Linked DNA regions of Homo sapiens: region 1 is linked to region 2. Evidence: fine-mapped expression QTL. A gene starts in region 2. The other region holds a variant in brackets. All regions are shown on one strand. Distances are from middle to middle.

Region 1 (2,911 bases), 37 kb before region 2:
ATGACCCCCTAAAGCACCTCTGTCAAAACAACCAAACCTGAACTCATCCCTCTCTGCCCTCTGCCCACTCTTGCTGTTCTTCCTTGTTTTCTACCTCTTTATTGTCTCAAATAGAAAATATGAAAATCATTACATTGTCCTCCCTTCAAAACCAGTTTTTAAGCAAGTCTACTTGATATCCCCCATATCTGCCCAATTGTCTCATTACTTTAGGCTTTCAGGGTGGATTAAAGTTACTCTGTTTCACTTGGATGCTTAAAACAGTGTCAAAGTGGTCTTCCTGCCTCTACTTTGACCTCTCCATCTCTGTTTCCACACCAAGGACAGAGTGGTCTTTTTAAAATCTAAATTTAGCCCTTGAGACGCAGCTTGAGCTTGAGGCATGCAGGGCTGGAGACACGGCAGACCTTCAACCCAGAGCAATATGAGGTGGTGAGCAAAAAAATGGAAAGGAAACAATAGAATAAAAAAGTTGGGGCCGGGCACAGTGGCTTACGCCTGTAATCCCAGCACTTTGGGAGGCCGAGGCAGGCAGATCACCTGAGGTTGGGAGATCGAGACCAGTCTGATCAACATGGAGAAACCCTGTTTCTACTAAAAATACGAAAATGAGCTGAGTGTGGTGGTGCATGCCTATAATCCCAGCTACTCAGGAGGCTGAGGCAGGAGATTTGCTTGAACCTGGGAGTCGGAGGTTGTGGTTAGCCAAGATCGCGCCACTACATTCCAGCCTGGGCAACAAGAGCGAAACTCCATCTCCAAAAAAAAAATTGATGCAGAGCCTGAAGAATTTGTAGTGGAAAAAGTACTGGATCAATGTGTGATGAATGGTAAGGTAGTGCATTTCCTGATGTGGAAGGGATTTATAGATGCTGAAAGTACTTGGGAACCTGAAGAAACTTAAGCTTGTCAAGAGTTACTTGGAACATTTAATTCTCAAAAAAGCTGTTAAAGAAAAAGATGATACAAGAAGAAAATATTTACCTGACAGTTGGATAACATAAAATCAAGGAAAGAGATACTGCAGACAAACCAAGAGACCTTGATCCTGAAAAAAATAATTGGCTATGCAGACAGCAGTGGAGAATTGATGATACTCATGAAATGGAAAATTCAGATAAAGCAGACTTGGTGTTAGCAAAAGAACAAAACATGAAGTGTATATAAAACCGGGCTCTTGCTTTTTGCTTTACTAATGTGAAGAAATAGCTGCATTCTAATAAAAATCAAGTTTGATATGTTCATTTTGAAAGTAGTTCGGGTTATGGCTGGGCACGGTGGCTCACATCTGTAATCCCAGCACTTTGAGAGGCCAAGGTGGATCACCTGAGGTCGGGAGTTCGAGACCAATCTGACCAATATGGAGAAACCCCATCTCTACTAAAAATACAAAATTAGCCAGGTGTGGTGGTGCATGCCTGTAATCCCAGCTACTTGGGAGGCTGAGGCAGGAGAATCACTTGAACCCAGGAGGCAGAAGTTGCAGTGAGCCGAGATCGTGCCATTGCACTCCAGCCTGGGCAACAAGAGCGAAAGTCCATCTCAAAAAAAAAAAAAAAGTAATTTGGGTTCATGACCTGCCTCATCAACATGGTGAAACTCTCTCTACTAAAAGTACAAAAATTAGGCCAGGCACAACGGCTCACACCTGTAATCCCAGCACTTTAGGAGACCGAGGCAGGCAGATCACCTGAGGTCAGGAGTTCAAGACTAGCCTGGCCAACATAGTGAAACCCC[G/A]TCTCTACCGACAAATATGAAAATTAGCCAGGTGTGGTGGTGGGCACCTGTAATCCCAGCTACTCAGGAGGCTGAGGCAGGAGAATCGCTTGAACCCAGGAAGTGGAATTTGCAGTGAGCCGAGATCATGCCACTGCACTCCAGCCCAGGTGACACAGCGAGACTCCATCTCGGGAAGAAAAAAAAAAATTAGCCAGGTGTGGTAGTACATGCCTGTAATCCAGTCACTTGGGAGGCTGGGGCAAGAGGATAGCTTGAAACCGAGAGGCAGTGGTTGCCGTGAGCCGAGATCATGCCACTGCACTCCAGTCCGGGTGACAGATTGAGACCCTGACTCAAACAAAAATAAATAAAAGTAGTTTGGGGAGAGTCATTGGGATTTTGTTTTGTTTGCATCAATAGCACTGGTTACTTTCAACAAATGAAAGCTTTCTGTGGTTGCTTCCCTTATCGGAAAAGAATGTTTGATACGATGGCATATTATTTCCTTGGCATTAGAGAACAGCTTTTCTAGATGTCGAGGGTAATTTCCGTAGTCATTACTCAATTAGAATTTGTTATCATATACTTAGGGACCATTGTGGTTTGTGTGTGTGTGTGTATACGTAATATGGATATATAAACATTTTTCTTTTGTTGTTGTTTTTGAGATGAAGTCTTGCTCCTGTCCCCCAGGCTGGGGTGGAATGGCGCGATCTCGGCTCACTGCGACCTCCGCCTCAGCTCCCTGTAGCTGGGATTACAGGCGTCCACCACCACACCTGGCTAATTTTTGTATTTTTAGTAGAGATGGGGTTTCACCTTGTTGGCCAGGCTGGTCTTGAACTCCTGACCTCGGCATCCCAAAGTGCTGGGATTACAGGCTTGAGCCACCGTGCCTGGCCGTCTTTTGTTGTTTTTAACCATTCACCAAAACAAAAAATCATGAGTAAGCCCATATTTCTGAGATGCCATCATTCAGAGGATCCTACAAAATAAATCACTTCATGTTAAATTGAAAATTTTCCTGAAGTCATGACATTAAATAGATGATTCTTTAATTAATTGCATAATTTAAATTGGATATTTTAATTTATTTATGTATTTATTTTGAGATGGAATCTCACTCTCACCCAGGCTGGAGTGCAGTGGCATGATCCTGGCTCACTGTAATCTCCACCTCCTAGGTTCAAGC
Region 2 (2,911 bases):
TACTGCGATCATGGTATTTATGACTGCACTGTAACTTAAGTGTGTGTGACTCTCTTTTGAATAGGGACACCATCTTCCCCTCTTTATACCTAGCATAGTGTCTGACACACATAAGTGCTCAATGATTTTTATTTTAGCAAATTGTAGTCATTTCCATACATTATTTTTTACAGTAAACATTGCCGGATACATTTCCATACGTTTTTAAAGAATAGAGGAGGAGGAAGAGGAGGGAAAAAAAGGAAAATAAATAAATAAACGTGTGGAGCAATCAACTCCAGAATCACACCAATATTTCTAGGTCTAATGGCCACACAGCAAAATCAGCCTCAGTTATCCCATTGTCTTCATATCTTAAGACCTAAAAATGGGAACACAGGATTGTGGGAATAGGTTAGGATTTCTCAGTTTCCAAATTTTTCTGTGAGACTTTTATGCTAACTCTAGCACGGCTTATGTAAAATGTTCGTGATTTGGGGGTGGATCTAAACCACCTCAGATCTATAACCTCTGAGATAAGTGGGGCTGAGCTGCCAGAATGCCATCCGCCATTTATCCCACCCAGAGACACAGGGGTAATTGTGGTTCTGATGCAGCCAGTTCGCCTACCCTGTAACGCTTATTTGCTAAAATAAACCAACCTAAGAGCTAGCCATCCAATGCAGAGGGCAGGGCCATTTTCGGTGCAGAACATACCTGGCCTAGCCAAGGGTGACAGGGTCCTGCCTTCAAAAACAGGCCAGTCACATGAAAGAGTGAAGATGGGCGCATGTGGAGGAGGACAACAGGCCACTGCCTGAGGCCTTCACATTTAAGCTACACAAAAATGCTTTTCCAGGTGAGCAGAGCTCTCGGGCTGCCTGCTTGTGACCCCTGCTCCTGTCAGTCACGAGAACAGGGCGAAGGAGGCGAAAACAGTGCGGAGAATAAGTCCGTAGGACAGTGAGTTCGGAAAATGCCTTCTTCAGTGTTCCAAGGTGCCCACGTGAACTGAGGAGGGCAGAGCAAAACCCCTTATTTTCGGGTCTGTGCAGGGTCCCCGCTAGGAAGGGGCAGCCCTTGAGTTTCATGTTGGTCGGTTATTAAGCGGCTCCCCCGTGAGCCCCGCCCAATGCCTGTGCGCTCAAACTAGCAGCGTCCGAGGAACGCGTTAACTGGGAGAAGTGAACTGAGGGGGTCCGGCGGCCGCTGAGGAGGGGAGCGCGCGGGAGGAGGGGCGAGGAGCCCGGAGGCGGGCGCGGCTGGCAGCTTAGAGGGCCCGGGCGGAGGCCTGAGAGCAGGGCTGGAGGGGCGGAGGACCGGGGAGACCCGCCCGCGGCGTTCCCGGCCGGTTCTGAGCAGGCGCCGTGGCAGCGCCCGCGCCCCCTGCCCGCCCTCCGCCGTCGCCAGGACGCAGGCTCGCGTCAGGGCTGGCGGTAGGGCCCGCAGCTGTCGGCCTGGCGTCTTCACCCCGCGCAGTCGGCCTCGCCTAGCCTTCTCGCGCCTGACTGGCCGGACCCTGCCCCTGGCGGAGGTAACTGCCCGCGGATTCCTTACCCCGCGATCCTGGCCTCCTCGTAAGCTCCCCGGACCCGGGCGTCCTCGGTCTCCCCTCATCTACTCTTCTGTCGGGCAGGTCCGCGACCTTCCGCCTCCCGGGCCGTCTCCCGCCGCACCCGGCCCTGGTACATCCCCACTACCCAGTCCGGGCCCGTCCTCGCTCTGGGCCTACCCCAGCCTCCCAGCGTCGCCTGCTGACGGAGCGCGGGAGCCCCAAGGGGCCGGGGTCACCCGGCCGGCGTGGGTGGTGCCAGGCTCGGGCCACACCTCGGCACCGGACCCGAGTCCCCCAGCTTCTCGAGCAGGATCCGGAGGAATAGAACGTCAATTTTCCTCGCTCTTAGCAATTTTAAGATTGACTAATGGATTTAGGGTATGTCAGTGCATAAAGTTCCCAGTATTTTTTCACTCAATAATTTTAGCAGCGCTGATACTATTGACTGGATTTGTTATTTCATTAGGAGCTGCAAATGATGCTTTTCTAATGCCGGCGTTTCTCTGGCATTTGGTTAACCCTTTTGTGAGAATTTATTTTATTTGCAATTTTATTTATTTATTTTTGAGCCGGAGTCTTCGCTGCGTTGCCCACGCTGGAGTGCAGTGGCTCTCACAGGCACAATCACAGCTCACTGCAGCCTCGAACTCTCTTGTCCTCAAGCGATCTTCCCATCTCAGCCTCCGTGCTGACTGATAGCTAGCATCTTGATAGATCTTTGTGTGCTGTCTCTGAGTAGTTTTTCTTTTAAAGCTATTTTATTAAAAAAACAAAAAAACAAGCCCATCTAATTTGGCCGGGCACAGTGGATCACGCCTGTAATCCCAGCACTTTGGGAGGCTGAGTCGGGCGGATCACCCAAGGTCAGGGGTTCGAGACCAGCCTGGCCAACATGGTGAAACCCGGTTTCTACTAAAAATACAAAAAAATTAGTCCGGTGTGGTGGTGCATGCCTGTAATCCCAGCTACTCGGGAGGCTGAGGCAAGAGAATCGCTTGAACCCGGGAGGCGGAGGTTGCAGTGAGCCGAGATCGCGCCACTGCACTGCAGCCTGGGCTACAAGAGCAAAACTTCAACTCAGAAATAAAATATAAATCAAAACTTTATGAAAATTGTCAGTTAAGATCTTCAGTGGTCCATGCGCAGTGGATCGTGCCTGTTATCCCAGCACTTTGGGAGGACGAAGTGGATGGATCACTTGAAGTCAGGAGTTTGAGACCAGCCTGGCCAACATGGTGAAACCCCATCTCTACTTAAAATTAGCCAGGCGTGGTGGCACACGCTTGTAGTCCCAGCTACTCGGGAGGCTAACGCAGGAGAATCACTTGAATCCGGGAGGCGGAGGTTGCAGTGAGCTGAGATCATATCACTGCACTC

Evidence for each region. PIP is the estimated chance that this variant, and not a neighbour inherited with it, causes the effect. A credible set is the group of variants that fine-mapping cannot tell apart.
Region 1: its variant is the best candidate, but not a certain one, in a credible set for the expression of CPLANE1 in whole blood (TOPMed, PIP 0.81).

What each region holds. Positions count from the first base shown.
Region 1 is chr5:37,284,768-37,287,678 of GRCh38, reverse strand. No RefSeq gene overlaps it. Among named protein-coding and RNA genes, the nearest start is that of CPLANE1, 37 kb to the right of the region's middle. The variant G/A (reference allele first, on the strand shown) is at 1,738.
Region 2 is chr5:37,247,847-37,250,757 of GRCh38, reverse strand. It overlaps CPLANE1 (ciliogenesis and planar polarity effector complex subunit 1), which reads left to right and starts at 1,382. Exons shown (of 53, transcript NM_001384732.1): 1 at 1,382-1,513. CPLANE1-AS1 (CPLANE1 antisense RNA 1) reads right to left here and starts at 1,712. Exons shown (of 2, transcript NR_134263.1): 1 at 1,537-1,712; 2 at 112-361. RefSeq lists silencers at 1,062-1,541, 1,742-1,881.